2 separate regions of the Homo sapiens genome follow, and region 2 is linked to region 1. Evidence: fine-mapped expression QTL. Tissue or cell type: whole blood. Region 1 holds a variant in brackets; the other region holds the start of a gene. All regions are shown on one strand. Distances are between the middles of the regions. Region 1 holds the start of UTP3 (UTP3 small subunit processome component). Region 2 holds the start of RUFY3 (RUN and FYVE domain containing 3).

Region 1 (8,412 bases):
TCTCTACTAAAAATACAAAAATTACCTGGGTGTGGTGGTATACACCTGTAATCCCAGCTACTCGGGAGGCTGAGGTAGGAGAATCACTTGAACCTGGGAGGCAGAGGTTGCAGTGAGCCTAGATTGTGCCACTGCACTCTAGCCTGGGTGACAGAGAAAGGCTCCATCTCAAAAACAAACAAACAAACAAACAAAAAAAACACCAAAAAATGGCCAGGAGCGGGTGGATCGCTTGAGGCCAGGAGTTCGACTGGGACTGTAGTCTCAGCTACTCCGCAGGCTGAGAGGCAGAATTGCTTGAACCTAGGAGGTTGAGGTTGCAGTGAGCTGAGATCACACCACTGCACTCAAGCCTGGGCGACAGACTGAGACTCTGTCTCAAAAAAAAAAACAAAAAACAAAAAACAAACAAACCCCCTGCAAAAGATCCAACCCGGCAGTCTAACTACAGTCTGTTCTTAACCACTGACTTATGGCTTCTCTGAGGTAGGTATAATAACAGAGACTCATACAGATGAAGAAAATGAAACTCAGAGATTAACTGAAAATCATCCTGTTAACTCCAAAACCTGTATTTTTTCTATTATATCAAAAAAAAAAAAAAAAAGGAAGTATAGAATTGGGTTCTGAAGCCATAAAGGCTGGGTTGAAATCCTGGCTCTGCCACTTAATAGCTGTGTGACCCTGAGAAAGTTACTTCTCTTTGCCAGTTTCCTTATTTTCAAAATATGGATAACAGAATTTACCACATAAGGTTATGAGAAATAAGGAAATAAGCACAAAGTGCTCGGAAAGTTACCTTAGTAAGCACTGTTATTTCTATTTCCAACCTACCTCTTTTATTTATAAGGAAACAAAATAATTTGTCCTGTGTGCTACTCTGAGGAAGCAGCTGTAAGCCAGAGGTTAAGAGAATGAATGCTCAAGTTGGTTTGGGTTCAGATTTCAAGCAGATGTCCTTTAGAAAGTCAACCTTCCAAAATTTCAGCATCCTCATCTGTGGAGCACAGTATCACCTTGCAAAGTTATTGTAAAGATTAAATGAGGTGATGTACAACTAGCACATGGCAAGTGTTCCATAAATATTAACCAAGCGTCATCTCTGCATCTCTAGCAGCTAGCACAGTGTTTACTGAATAAACAGTGACACAATTAGGAAATTAGGACTTTTTTTTGTGGTTTCCTTCACTAGTCCTCTCATTTTCTTCCCTGGCAACATCCTATTTTTACATTTACCACCTCAACATCTTCCCCCTATTTAAAGACCAGTGTAGCAGCAAAGAAAAATGGCTAATGTTAAATGACGAGTTACGGGGTGCAGCACACCAACATGGCACATGTATATATATGTAGCTAACCTGCACGTTGGGCACATGTACCCTAAAACTTAAAGTATAATTAAAAAAAAAAAAGAAAAGAAAAATGGAACATTGAGCTGGGCGTGGTGGCTCACACTTGTAATCCCAGCACTTTGGGAGGCCGAGGCGGGCAGATCACTTGAGGTCAGGAGGTCGAGACCAGCCTGGCCAAAATGGTGAAACCCTGTCTCAACTAGCAATACAAAAATTAGCTGGGCGTGGTGGCAAGCACCTGTAATCCCAGCTACTCAGGAGGCTGAGGCAGGAGAATCGCTTGAACCCGGGAGGTGGAGGTTGCAGTGAGCTGAGAGATCCTGCCACTGCACTCCAGCCTGGGCTACAGAGTGAGACTTCAATCTCGAAAAAAAAAAAAAAGAAAAATGGAACTTTGTTGCCACTTAAAGTTACCACTTACCTGGTAGTAATCATATCAAAGTTTTAGCAAATGGAGTGCAAGTACAAGCAGCAACCACTGCAAATCACCAGTAAAGAAGGGGAAATGGGATTTTTACCTTATTTGCCACATGAAGAACTATGAGAAAATATTGACAATTGATGTAATTAAGGCATATCTTTTCCTTTTTCTGCTTTTAACCAAAGTTTCATTCCTATGCTTTTAAACCACACAGAACATATGAAATCCATGTTAACATTAAGCCCATTTATTAACAAGTATCTGGCCCAATAATTATAGTTAGGTAAATAAAATACTTCAGAACTATTTTATAGGCTGCCTTACAAATAAGATAACTGTCAAAGATGCATTCTCTTTATGTGAAAAGTTACACATGTTCTAAGTTTAACACTCCACAATGAACTGTGAAATTTCCCTAAGCTAATACTTAATATTGGAAAACTTCAACAGAATATTGGAAAACTTCAACATCATCTCTTTTCTCAAGCACCTTCATATTGCTCCCATAGTTCTTATAAATTGTCCAATAACCCAGACAAATTTCCTTGTGGACAAGAATTTTTAAAATTTAAAGTATTATATATTAATACAATGACTTTAGTTAAAAGTAAAAATTTATTGATCCAAAACTGCCAAAAACCTTATGCTAAGCAAAAACTTCATTTAAGCTTAATGCTCTTTTTAACTCCTGCACGAATGCCAGATAATTCACCACTATAACGTTGCTCTTCTTTACGAACTTCACGAACCTGGCCTCTTCTTCTAATTTTGGCTCTTCTGAACTTCTCTCTGTGTTTCACTCTGGGATTGCGATCAATCTTCTTTCTCCTAGGAGTAAGTCCCCTATTTTTAGCAATTTGATAGGTAATAGCTCTCTTTGCATTTTGATCTTCAAGAGCCTGTTCTTCAGTGCTATTTTCTTCTTTCTTTCTCTTTAGCTTTTGCCTGTCTTCTATTTCTTTATAGTACTTCAGTTTTGCTTTTTCATCAAAATCAGAATCATCAGAAAGATCTGTAACAGCACAGGCAGCAGCAGAAGTCTTTGAAACAGACTTTGGTTTGGGCTTGGTGGATTTTGCTTTTGGAATCAGTTCTTTCTTTACAGCATCATCCTTAAGTGTCAACAGATGACGAATTTCTGAGGACAGCTTCTGATCCACAACGGACAGCTTGTTGATCAAATTTCGGTAGGTAACAAGCCTTTCTATGACAGGATGTCCATGTGCTGGGACTCTCCTAGCTTTCAGGATCAAATAAAAACTGATGTTCGAGCAATAATTCAAGTAGAGGTTGTACTTGGTCCTCAAGTATTGGCTTCCTTTTCCGGGTGGAATGATCCCTTGTTCCACCAACTCTAACAATGGCTCCAGCTCATCCTTAACCTCTGTCAACTTGACTTTCAGGTCTTCTATCAGCTCCAAGAGTTCTGGTGATTCCTTTCGCAACATTTTCAGCTTCTCTTTCACTGAAACTTTAGCCAAATCCTTCACGACCCGTGTCTCAGCCTCATCTACCTGAGGCACTGGTTTTGCAAAGGCCTCAACCCAGGCGACACCAAAATCATCCTCTTGCAGCGCTTGGGCTAGGCGCCGCTGAATGATCTGTGCCTCCTCCTCCTCCTCTCTTTCCTCCTCCTCTGCCTCCTGTTGACTCTGCCGGCCTCGGGACTTGGAACCATAGTCCGTGTCATAGTAAAGTTTTTTCCTCTGACCCCACGACAAACTGGGATCCACAGAGGCCTCAGCTTCACTTTGCACGGAGCTCCCACCATCATCATCGGCATTCTCCTCCTCCTCCTCCTCCCCCGCATTCCCTCCATCTTCGTCGTCCTCATCGTCCATATCTAGGGCTAGCACCTCCTCCTCCTCCTCCTCGCCATCCTCCTCGTCTCCACTCTGTACTTCATTCCAGCCCTTAGCTAAGGCGGCCCGGGATCGTGCCTCATGAAAGTCATCTACCTGATCTTGGTAGTAGCTGGTGTCCCCTGGTGAGGGTGGCAATCCTAAATCATCTCCATTTTCGTCGGTGAGCGTGGGACCTGCCTTGGCTCGCACAGCTGCCCACTTAGCTGCTCCGCGCCGCCGGGATCTCCCCACCATGGCTCACAATCTCAGGTTTTACAGCGACTCCGGACTTTCGGCCACCACTGACTTCGGCGCAGGAATCAGGCGCTCCGGTAACTCGTGGCTCTAAACAGCAGCGCGCTCCCCTACCACCGGAGTTTGCAGACTCCTGATCGGCTACTGG[A/C]ATTTCCTCTTCCTTCCGGCCCCCAGCATGCTCTCCGCGTGGCGTACGATTGAGGACTTCCGCTCGGTCCCTTAGTCGAGATCACGTTGATACCAACTTCCTTTTCACTGTGCCCTTTAACGCCAGTCGATTCCGGTGAATTAAAATCTTTCCGTGTGGAAACGATAGGATAAGGAAGTTCCGTTCCACAGAACGCTTTCTCGGGCTAATGCGCTTACTCTCGAGTGCCTGGGAGTGGCTGGGGGACGGAATCCTGACGGCACCTCCAGGCGAGGTCCCGATGGCCAATAGAGGGCGCTGCGCTTTACGCCCCGGAGAAGTCCCGGGGGCGTTCCATTGAGGTTTAACTGCGTGTGTACCCGGCGCTTGCGACCGGCAGTCTAGTGCTAGCGTAGTTTTCCTGCTCCCTTGTTTTCTCTTTTCTGCTTATCAGGCTGGAAGTTAATCAGATTGCTTTCCTCTCATTTCACCCCCACCCCCAATACCATATTTCTGGGTACCACAGCCTCAGGCAGCGCCGCTGGACTCCAGAATCCCACGGGAGGTTTCCGGGCGAGAGCGCAGGCCGGGCCTCCGGCTCGGGTTTACTCATCCCCATCGCCCTCTCCCTGCTCACAGGGCTCGGTGACCCGCTCCATGGGGATCGATAAAGCTAGATGACCCCGAGGCTGACAGTGGGAAGGCAGAGCCCCGCTGCAGGGTCTGACTCTTCTCAAGGAAGTCTGCCCTGTAATGTTAGAGTAATTCAGGGTGTAAGTTTTTAGGCATTACATATGTAAGGTTCAGGGTTAGTATTATTATACCTTTTAATGTAGGTAGTTGGAAGCTGAACTTTTGATACGTTGCTAAAATTAATGGTGACATGGCTGGGCGCGGTGGCTCATGCCCATAATCCTAAGCACTTTGGGAGGCCGAAGTGGGTGGATCACTTGAGGTCAGGAGTGCAAAACCAGCCTGGCCAACATGGGGAAACCCAGTCTCTACTACAAATACAAAAAATTAGCGGGGCGTGGTGGCGGGTACCTGTAATCCCAGCTACTCGGGAGGTTGAGGCAGGAGAATCACTTGAACCCGGGAGGCGGAGGTGGCAGTAAGCCGATATCGCACCACTGCACTCTAGCCTGGGCGACAGACAGAGACTCTGTCTCAAAATAAATAAATAAATAAATAAAATAAAATTAATGGTGACAATTTCTTTTTCTTTTGTTTTTTGTTTCTTTTTTCTTTTTCTTTTTTTCTTTTTTTTTTTTTGAGACGGAGGCTCGCTCTGTTGCCAGGCTGGAGTGCAGTGGCAATCTCGGCCCACTGCAACCTCCGACCCCCTGGTTCAAGTGATTCTCCTCCCTCAGCCTCCCGAGTAGCTGGCATTACAGGCACGCGCCACCACTCCCAGCTAATTTTTGTATTTTTAGTAGAGACGGGGTTTCATCATGTTGGCCAGGATGGTCTCCATCTCCTGACCTCGTGATACGCCCGCCTCGGCCTCCCAAAGTGCTGGGATTGATTACAGGCGTGAGTCACCGCGCCCAGCCAATGGTGACAATTTCTTTTCAGAAAGTATAGTGTCATTAGGTTAATAAAAATAATGCAAAATGTTAGAAAAGTGATACTTTGAAATAAACATTTTCCAAGTGCCTAAAGGTGTCCGAAACATTTTGAAATTTTTACAAGATTTTAGAAAATAAAATTAAATTAGAAAGTTGTGGGCAAAAGTTATGTTCTGATGGTAAGCATGAATTTATTTTTTAATGTAAATTTTAGTACATTTTGTCATTTAGCAGATATTAACTGCTTACTGTTTGTTGTAGAATGCTACAGACAATAGTGATGAATCAGCCAGTTAAGGACTGTATAATCAGGTAGAAAAGAAGACACTCATACAGATTACTGGAATACAAGGCAGTGTATGATGTAAACCCGGTGCTGTAAGAGAACAGAAGGATAAGAGATAACCTTTAGATTGCTGTTTTGGGAATATTGCTTAAAGAATATGACATCTATGCTGGAATTGTAGTTATTTCCTTACTTTAAATGTTAAATTTTCATTATTTAAACACTGTTGCATTTAGGCACATAAATAAAAATTTTTCATTTTTATTGCAAATTATTTGAGAATTTAGTGTCAGACTTCAAGACTAAAATGCATATACTATTATATATAAGTTAGAAAAATATTTTGGATATTTTAAATGGGAATGATCACATTAATATTATTTAGTTTATACTAAATGTTAAATTTCCTAACCAGAACAGAGTTGCAGTATTCAATGCATATTCAGAGAGTATCGTATTCTAACATTCTCAGATCCTTTGTTTTTAGAGACAGGTGCCTGCTGTGTTCCCCAGGCTGGGTAGAACTCCTGGGCTTAAGTGATCTCCTGCCTCAGCCTCCTGAGTAGCTGGGACTAAAGGTGCGTGCCGCTTCACCCAGTTTTTCAGATCCTTTTGATAAAGAACAATTGATTCTCCTGCCTCAGCCTCCCACGTAGCTGGGATTACAGGCACCTGCCACCACACCTGGGTAATTTTTTTGTGTGTTTTTTTTTTTTTTTTTTTTAGTAGAGATGGGGTTTCACCATGTTAGCCAGGCTGGTCTCAAACTCCTGACCTCAGGTGATCTGCCCACCTCAGCCTCCCAAAGTGCTGGGATTGCAGGTGTGAGCCATCGCACCCAGCCAATCTGAATCTTTATTTTATTGTGATGTCTGGCTCAGGAGTTAGCAAGTTACACTAATGAGAGCCAGCAGGTTAAAAAAAAATTGTTTTTGCCTTACTCTAAGCCCTTTATGGGATTTTCTTACTATGGAAATTAGGGAGTCTATGAATGACACATTAGGTGATGATACATTAGGATACTTCTTTCAGGGCATTTATTCTGGGTGTTGGAGGTATTGTATGATCACATTAGCTTAAACTAATCTTTATTTCTTCCTGGACTATTGAAACAATTATAATTAATAATAGCTAACATTGAGAGTGGTTATTGTGTGCTAGATACCATTACAAGCTCTTGAAACCATTATAACCCTGTGAAAAGTTACTATAATAATCTGTAATTGGAGATGAGAAAATTAGGCGCATATAGCTTAAGTGAGGTCATAAAGCTAATAAGTGTTAGAACTAGATTTAAACTAGAACAGTCCAGCTTCAGAATCCATGTTGTGCTATAACTAACTACTATACTATACTGGCTTTCAACTTTTCCTTTAATAGGTCTCCTCCTTTTAGTCTCTGGTACATTTGATCTGGTACATCAGATATATCTTCCTAGAATATCATTTCTGTCACCGCATATCCTGGTTCAGAAACTTTCATTTACTATCCAGATAGTAAAAACTTTCGTTTACTAACAAAATTTACAGCATACATGGCTGTCCTAAAGTTTTACCCCAAAACAACCTTTCCAGTCATACCTTTCATTACTACAAAAACCTTCAATGCTAAGCTAAGTACTCTACTATGCTTTATTCTCATTTGTCACTTTACCAATCTTCTGGGTGTTCAGAATTACCTGTATCAGAAATTTATAAATCATTGCAGATATCTTTTTGGTTAAGAAATTCTCACATAAGCCCATCCATAAGGGGACCTGTGCGAAGCTATTTGAAAAGTTATTTTTGGTAGCAGCGAGTTAGAGACAACCTGGATATCCGTCACTGGAAGAGCAGATCAATAAAATGTTGTGGAAGAACAGCATGGAATTTAGGAGCATAGGGTGATCATACATTCTGGCTTGCCCTGGATGGCCCTGTTTAACCTGTTATCCCAGTGTAATTATTAATAGCACCTCCTTTCACTCTCATGATTAAGATGATAATTTTTTTTTTTGAGACAGAGTTTCACTGTTGTCACCCAGGCTGGAGTGCAATGGTGCGATCTCAGCTCACTGCAACCTCCGCCTCCCAGAGTCAAGAAATTCTCCCACCTCAGCCTCCCGAGTAGCTGGTATTACAGGTGCCTGCCACCACGCCTGGCTGATTTTTGTATTTTTAGTAGAGACGGGGTTTCACCATGTTGGCCAGGCTGGTCTCGAACTACTGACCTCAGGTGATCCACCCCTTGTCCTCCCAAAGTGCTGGGATTACAGGCTTGAGCCACCATGCCTGGCTAAGATGATACATTTTATAGTGATTTTAACTATATAGTAATTGGAAGCAGTAGATTATATATCCATATGGCAACATGAATGGATTTTTAAAACAATGTGCTAAGGGAAAAAAGTAAAAAATAGAATGTAATAAATAATATACCATTCACAAAAATTAAAAATGCAGGCACAATAATGTAACAATACACATTTTGTAGGAATATAATCAAACAAAATAATATACATTAAACACAAAAGAATAGCTGTTTGTGGAAGATGAAGAATGGGATAAGGGTTGGAGATTA
Region 2 (8,412 bases), 34 kb before region 1:
GCTGCTCCTCTAGCACTGACATGGCACAAGCAAAGTAAGAAAGTAAGCCACATTCTCACATCTCTGAATGTCCATTTAAGTCTCACTCCTTTTATCTTCACCCCCGCCTTTCCATGTGAGGATTCCAACTCTTAATGTAAATTAGGGTACAGACTTAAGCCAGGATATGTAATCTGGAAAAGTATAAATCTGATTAATGCTTCTGTGGGGCGGGTAGAAGGCTCAACTGAAAGAGTAATGGGCGGGGCACGGTGGCTCACGCCTGTAATCCCAGCACTCTGGGAAGCTGAGGCGGGCGATCACCTGAGGTCGGGAGTTCGAGACCAGCCTGACCAACATGGAGAAACCCTGTCTCTGCTAAAAATACAAAATTAGCTGGGCGTGGTGGCGCATGCCTGTAATCCCAGCTACTTGGGGAGTCTGGAGAGTCTGAGTTAAGGAGAATTGCTTGAACCTGGGAGGTGGAGGTTGCAGTGAACTGAGATAGCGCCATTGCACTCCAGCCTGGGCAATAAGAGCGAAACTGTCTCAAAAAAAAGAAAAAAAAGAGTGATGGTAGTGCTTTTGTTAGTCACAATCTATTAAGCATCAACAACTCAAATGTTCTCTTCCTTCTATATTCCCTACTGGTAAAGGGAACCTAGCTTCTGCAGCCAGAAGTTGGAGAGTCATCCCAGGCACTGCCTTATGTTCATTCTCCAGCCACCCAGCCCCTCAGTCATCGGGTACATTCTGCTTTTCCAGGGATTGTTCCTTTGGTGTTCACTCTTGCTACCTTAATGTGAGATTGTCATCTCTTACCCAGACCATTTTAAAAGTTATAGTTAGGGGTCCCTGAGAGCTTATATCCTTCTGATCCATTCACTACACTGTTGCCAGAGTGATCATTCCAAACACAAATCTTATTTTATGTTACTCCCAGACATAAAGCACCAGTAGCTTTTCACTACAGAATCAAGTGCAGGCTTTTCAGTATGAATAAGATTTCTACAGTCAAGCCCCTGCTTATCTTTCCAGTCTTGCTCCCTGTTGTGCCAAACAGAAGCCCTCTGTGCTCCTGTTGCTATTCCCTGGCTGGGCCAGCTCACTGTGTACTGTTTGAAATGCCCTCCCTATGTCGGTCTGGTGATCACCTGTTTATCTCTTAAGGTCTCACTTAATGAAGCCTCTCCTGACCCTTCTCCTGTGGAGTCAATCACAGGCTCTTGCCTTTAGGGGAAATCTATTTGCAATTAAACTTGTTGTAGATTTGCTGTTGGCTTTTGAAAATAAGAGTATATAAGCCGGGCATGGTGGCTCACACCTGTAATCCCAGCACTTTGGGAGGTCAAGGAGGGTGTATCACCTGAGGTTGGGAGTTCGAGACCAGCCTGATCAACATGCAAAAACCCCGTCTCTACTAAAAATACAAAAATTAGCTGGGTGTGGTGGCGCATGCCTGTAATCCCAGCTATTTGGGAGGCTGAGGCAGGAGAATCGCTTGAACCCGGTAGGCAGAGTTTTCAGTGAGCCAAGATTGCGCCATTGCACTCCAGCCTGGGCAATAAGAACAAAACTCTGTCTCAAAAAAAAAAAAAAGAGTATATAAGACAAAAGAGAGATAATCCCTCATTGACCACCAATAAGCATTGAGATAATGAAGTGAATGCTTTTATTTTCATTTATTTAAGGGTTAAAGTAGGCAGAAACTCTAGGTCCAGGCCTATACTGCGGACTGCTCAGTGAAGGGCCAGGAACTCTGGTTTTAAGAAAATAAAATATGGAAGCCACAGAGCCTCTATTGCTGAGTACACACAGTCAGTCTACATCATTTTAAGAGGGAACATTATGCTGTTTGCCTATTTTCTTTTGTGGGAGTGAGGAGACTTCACTCTAGGATTTGGGTGGTCAGATGTTTTTCCCTCTGTGAATCAGCCCGGAAAGCAGTCTGAATACTCCCGCGTCCAGACATCAGGAGTTCCATTTTGTGAACAAGGTGAGATTCACATAATCATGGGCCTGGTGACCACCACTTAAATGCTTATAGCTAAATTAAATCTAATAACTATCAGTGGTATTAACATAAAAGTGGGTATTTCTTGGGACCAAATGACTGTTTAAATATCCAGAGTTTGGTAATGGAGCAAGGCAGTAATACTCACAGGCTTTCATGGGACTATGCTTTCTTTATTTTCATTTCTAGTAATTTAAAATAATAGCTTTCTTGCCCAATTTAAGGCAAAATTCTAAAATGCACTGTCGGCATTTCTCTATTTTCTTCCAAATCCTCTATAGTTGATTACAGGTCTTGGAAACTCTGTATTTATCTGATTTCTTTAATCAGCAGACATACAATTTATTACTTAGATTATAGCTCTCACACATTTTCCATACTGAGAAATGTGTTGCTACAGATTTCTCTATGAAGAATTCAAATGGCGCTGCTAAAAACGCTTACATGAACCAAACAGCTCACTTTTGCTTATCCATAGGAATCCTGCTCCAAAAACATATATTTGAGGTGTTAAAATTGTTAAAAATTATTTTTGAGACACTGGTAAACTAGATTTCATGATAAAGGGAATATTTCATATTGTATAACTCTCAAATTGGACGGGAATACATTTTTTTCAAACAAAATATGTAAACTGAGGCAGTTGCCAGAAGACTTCTTGGTAGCCTTCTAAAACTGTATTTTTCTTCCCTAAAGACTTTTAAAGCTTTGGAGGCTGTTTTAAGTAGTACTGGAATTGTTGGATGTAACGATGTTTTGATGAAAATATAGAATAAAATAATAATAAAAAATAAATAGTACTGGCATTGCATGGAATTTCAGCTGATGTCTTATAACTTGTGCACATAACGAAACATACAGCCAAAGAAAGCTGTCTAATTAACAAACCAATTGTTAAAAGATGCAAAGGGTCTTAAAAACCACTTAAACATTGTTCTTAAAGACACACCCAAAATGACTGCTTTGTGTTCTGTGTTATTAACCATCCCTAAAACTTTCTCAAGGCTAAGGCTGACTGGGAAGATAAAATGCTTATCAAACACAATGGGAAAATTCTGAGTCATGATAAGATTTCAACTCAAGGTCAAAGGCAGAGAATCACCTTTCCTAACCCCATCTGCTAGGTACAATTCACCTATGGTCTTCTTTGTCCTGTCGATGTGCCTAACTATCAGGCAGATGTTTATAAAGAATTTCTCCTCATATGCAAGCGTTTTTTGTTTTTTTTCATCAGTATAAGGACAGAGAATAAACCTTAGCTAAGAAGCAACTGTATTAAAAACAAAACGATTTGTAGCTATGATTCAAATCAGCTCTCTTTCTGTGGTATTAAGAGAATTAAAGGGTAGAAGCAGAAAACCTCTCATAAATTAGCAAGAGTCCTGGAAAAAAGTCGCAAGTCAAGAGACCACAAAGATCTCAGAGGTACTGACAGTGGAAATCTCAAATGGATCATAATAGTTACCACAAATAATTTATAAAAAGCAATGGCCAATAGATTCCAATATTACCATTCTATTGTAATCTATAGGGATGCCATATTAATCATATTTAACCTTTCCAGGCATTATGCTTTCTTAGGAGTCCATATTCAATAAATAAATGCTGAAAAGTTATTTTCTCATCTAACCTAATAATCCATATTGTTAAAAAAATGTTTTATCAAACATTTCCTAGATGTCATAACTTGCTTAAAATTGTATCCTCATATAATGGTGAGGATACCATTACCAAATACCCTGGTGTTTCTACTGTATTCATCATGTACAATCCTATAATTATAGTCATGTTGTCTTAACTTAGTGTTATAAATCACTACAATTTCTATAACATTTTCATATATGAACAAAATTAATAGCTTTCTCATTATTGAATAGAATCAGATGTGATAAGTGACCTCAAATGTTTTATTTAGAGGCTTAAAGACAAAGAACTCTAAACGAGTATCCAGCATCTTTTGAAAGGATACCTAAAGGGGCAAGAAAAAAAATTATCTTTCCCCCATGAGCAAGAGAAGGGGAGCTGGGTGGTAAGTAAGGATGCAAGGTTTTCAGGACTGTTAACAGTTGAGAGTGTAGGTTCTTTCTACCTCTCCCTGATCCTCCCAGCCCTCCCCCATAACAATGAGGATGCTGGTGAAATACTAGCGGACAGGATCTGACCATACCTTCATGGGTAGGCTCTGGGTCAGGTGTAAGTGAGATGTCATCCAGCTCTCGCAGGCAGAGCCATTCTCCATCCATGGACACTCGGAATTTGCAAAGGTAGATGGTCTCCATGGCAGCCTGTGTGATCTTGTCAGTGGTGGGGGTTGGCATATCGGTCGGAGGCGTCAGAGCAGACATGATGACTCAGCTGGGACCACAACACACACACAGACACACACACACTCACACACACACACCAAAAAAATAAATACAACCTCCTCACCAAAAAAACCCAATACAAAGCTCTGAAACAAAGCTTTCAGGAAAAGGGTGGGGGAGGTTTAAAAAAAAAAAAAAGGAAAAATACCTTATAGGTTAAGAACAAACTGCTCAAGATAAACAATTCTACACTATCTTATAGACAGTTCCTACCACATAGCAAAATAAGATGATGCTTGTCTTCTCCCAGCTTCCTCTCCTTTTATCTTCCCTTCCCTGCCCCCCACCTTTTTTTTCAGCTGAGCTATAGGCTTTAAATCCCGCACAGCTGATGCTGCCTTAGCTGGCTTTAAAAATCTGGCCTCGATATGAGTAAGTGAAAAATCCTCCTCCTTTGTGCAGAAAAAAAATATAAAAGAAAAACCTGAACAAAAAATAAACCTATATTTTCAATGTAGCTTAAAAAAAAAATCCTGAGCTGCAGAAATCACTTCCAGGATCTGCTCAGATGAGCTGGGATGCTGAGTTCTCATAGGATTGGCCGTGCGCAGTAAGCAGGGTGTTGACCAAAATGGCTGACTAATGAACTGAACTGAAAATTCAGGCTCATGTGACCAGCTGCTCTGAACGTAGGGCAAGCAATTCCCAGGATGCTTTATAGATGCTGCTGATGCTGGGAGAGCAATTAGGCTTCTCTCTCTCATCCTGTACAACCCACTTCCAGACTGTGCTAGTCAAACTGTGATCAGACATAACACAATGCACATATCCTCATCAATTCTTCTTACTTTGGGATCAAGGACTGAATAAAAGGATGACAATTAATACCGGATAATAATCTATAGTAAAGATGGTAAAAGAGGCAGTTAGATTAATTTAACAAGCATATAATTCACCTCTTTCATTCTTATCTACATAGCTATTAAAATTCTTTACTATGCTAAATGTTATGTTTTAAGAAAAGCTAAAGCATAAAAAATTGAGGTTCTCAGAGGGAAAAAAAACAAAAAGATAAAAAGAAAAGCTAAAGTAGATTTTCAATTTAAATATCTTATTCTTGGGCATTTATAATTTCCTTCTCCAAGGTACAAAAACCTGACCTTTTAGGTTAGGCAGAAATGCAAAAAAAAAACTTCAAGTTAAAAAAGTAAAATCTTTCCCAATTAATGGCAATTTCCCCCCTTTTTGATTTTGTTGTATTTATCAAGTTTCTGTATTAAGCATAAAATACGTTTCTTTTTTTTTCTTTTTTCTTTTTTGAGACAGAGTCTTGCTCTGTAGCCCAGGCTGGAGTGCAGTGGCGTGATCTCAGCTCCCAGGTCCAAGCAATTCTCTGCCTCAGCCTCCCGAGTAGCTGGGATTACAGGCACCCACCACCACGCCCAGCTAATTTTTGTATTTTTAGTAGAGACGGGGTTTCACCATCTTGGCCAGGCTGGTCTTGAACTTCTGACCTCATGATCCTCCCACCTCAGCCTCCCAAAGTGCTGGGATTACAGGCGTGAGCCACCATGCCCAGCCTTAAGCATGAAATATGTTTCTAAGCAGATTAAACCATGTTATATTTTTAAAATCCTCCCATTCGATAAGATACTGAAGACAATTATATTTTCTTAATACACACACACACACACACACACACACACACACACACACACACACACGGCCCTATATTATCCAATGAGGCATTTATACCTTGGTAGCAAAAGGGCAGGTACTTGCTTTATGAACTACATAAATTACAAAGAGAAGAATAAGAATTTTCTTTGAAAATGTTTTGGACAATTGAAAGAAAGTGTTTGTTTGTTTTTGTATTGAAGGGTTCCAATTTTAAGGAGGAACATACAAATTCAAGAAATATGACCTGAGACTATTCCTTTCTAGGGATTGTTATCAGAGGGACATCTTGATTTACCTAATTTCTGAAAACTAAAAAAATTCTCCTTGAATATTGTTAAAATCTCAAATGCTTCATCATAATTTGAGACTGAACTGAAAGAAAAAAATGCTAATAATCAAATTCTGTAGAGAAACTGGCATTTTCATATTGTTACGAAGACAGGGCGGATGGCTGGGCGCGGTGGCTCATGCCTATAATACCAGCACTTTGGGAGGCCAAGGCGGGCAAATCACCTGAGGTCAGGAGTTCGAGACCAGCCTGGCCAACATGGTGAAACCTCATCTCTACTAAAAATACAAAAATTAGTCAGATGTGGTGGCATGTGCCTGTAATCCCAGCACTTTGGGAGGCTGAGGCAGGTGAATGGCTTGAGCTCAGGAGTTTGAAACCAGCCTGGGCAACATGGCAAAACTCCATCTCTACAAAAACAAAAATTAGCAAGGTATGGTTGCGCGCACATGTGGTCCTAGCTACTTGGGAGACTGAGGTGGAAGAATCACGTGAGGCCAGGAGGCAGAGGCTGCAGTGAGCCGAGATCATACCACTGCACTCTACCCTGTCTCAAAATAAAAAAAAGAAGGAGGGTATACTGGTACAATGTAAGAAGGCATATATATAGGCTTATTTATAATTGGGGAAAATCAGTAAGTTACTAAGGAAAGCAAAATACTCCTGGTTTTATTTCTATCTCATTCTCTCTCATCATTACCCTACATCTAGACTCAGAGCCATTCATTCATTCATTCATTCAACAGATATTCACTAAGAGGTGCTCCACATGCCAGGTAGTGATCCAGGCACTAGGCACGCAGCAGTAAGACAGAAACACCTTTTCCAGGAAACAGAATTTTCATATCCAAATACTGAACACAAGCCTTCATTTAACACATTCTCATTTAATTCAGTTCAATTCCTTTCTAGCCAAAAATATTCCCATATTATATATTAATAAGGGGACAGTTTATAGATTCACTTTATATCATGCAATACTTCAAAACATAGTAAGTAGTCATTAAAACCTTCAAATTACATGGGACATTCCTGGAACCACAACTCCAAACAGCCCTAGCTATCTGTATGTGTGATATCAAAACTCTAGATCACTGATATGTTCTTAAAACAGAACAAGGAATACATGAATAAATCCGAATGCCATGTGATTGTCTGGGGTCCAAAACCTGAATTTGGCCTTGTCACAAACCACAACAATCTCTTCACCCCAGTAAGCATTTACTAACTTGAACAGATCTAGATTGATTGCAACATACCAACACAACAGGAACATCAAGGTTAGTGAGCAAGAAACTTGATTAACATTCCTTCGGAAGATCCATCCCACCCTGCCTCTCTCCAGGTAGAGGACACAGAGAGGCAAGCCCAAAACAACTAAAGTTTTTGGCAAGGAAAGAAAAACATGCCTGTATTGGTATCCTTGAATTTCCCAGATCTACCAGTTTGAGGTGTTGGCAGCCATTTCAGAAATAAGACCCGGGGGTGGGCAAGAAAAACTGTACTTCTACGCTGTTCTTTAGGTAAACACCATTGAGTCTTCAGCACGAACAGTTATCCATTGTTCACAGGCAAAGAAGTTACTATGAAAACAGTGCTATTTGTAGAAACTTATAAAAACAATTCTACGGCCGGGCACGGTGGCTCATGCCTGTCATCCCAGTACTGTGGGAGGCTGAGGCAGGCGGGTCACCTGAAGTCGGGAGTTCAAGACCAGCCTGACCAACATGGAGAAACGCCATCTTTACTAAAAATACAAAATTAGCTGGGCGTGGTGGCACATGCCTGTAATCTGCTACTCTGGAGGCTGAGGCAGGAGAATCGCTTGAACCTGGGAGGCGGGGGTTGCAGTGAGGTGAGATTGCACCACTGCACTCCAGCCTGTGAAACTCCGTCTCAAAGAAAAAAAAAAAAGATTTTAGATATTGCTTAGTACCGTTTTTACATTTTGGTCTTTACTAAGTAAACATCTTAGCTTTGAATATGAAGTTAAAGTTAAGCCATCAGTAAGATATTCAAACCTTGATTTTTTTTCTCACATACAGAGTAATTACTGTATGAGCTGTATTGAACTATTTTCTCATTTGATCCCATTTGTGAGTAATGGCACCTATTTGTAAGATGGTTGTGAGGCGGGTGGGAGT

What was found.
Region 2: it holds the start of RUFY3, and the variant in region 1 is fine-mapped to the expression of RUFY3 in whole blood (TOPMed, PIP above 0.99).

The regions. Positions count from the first base shown.
Region 1 is chr4:70,684,138-70,692,549 of GRCh38, reverse strand. It overlaps UTP3 (UTP3 small subunit processome component), which reads right to left and starts at 4,018. Exons shown (of 1, transcript NM_020368.3): 1 at 1,999-4,018. The coding sequence starts at 3,872. The coding sequence ends at 2,433. LOC101927297 (a long non-coding RNA gene) reads right to left here. Exons shown (of 4, transcript XR_938860.3): 4 at 5,734-5,943. RefSeq lists enhancers at 3,893-3,952, 3,154-4,122, 4,653-4,742, 4,123-5,093. The variant A/C (reference allele first, on the strand shown) is at 4,021.
Region 2 is chr4:70,718,500-70,726,911 of GRCh38, reverse strand. It overlaps RUFY3 (RUN and FYVE domain containing 3), which reads right to left and starts at 4,948. Exons shown (of 18, transcript NM_001037442.4): 1 at 4,161-4,948. The coding sequence starts at 4,338.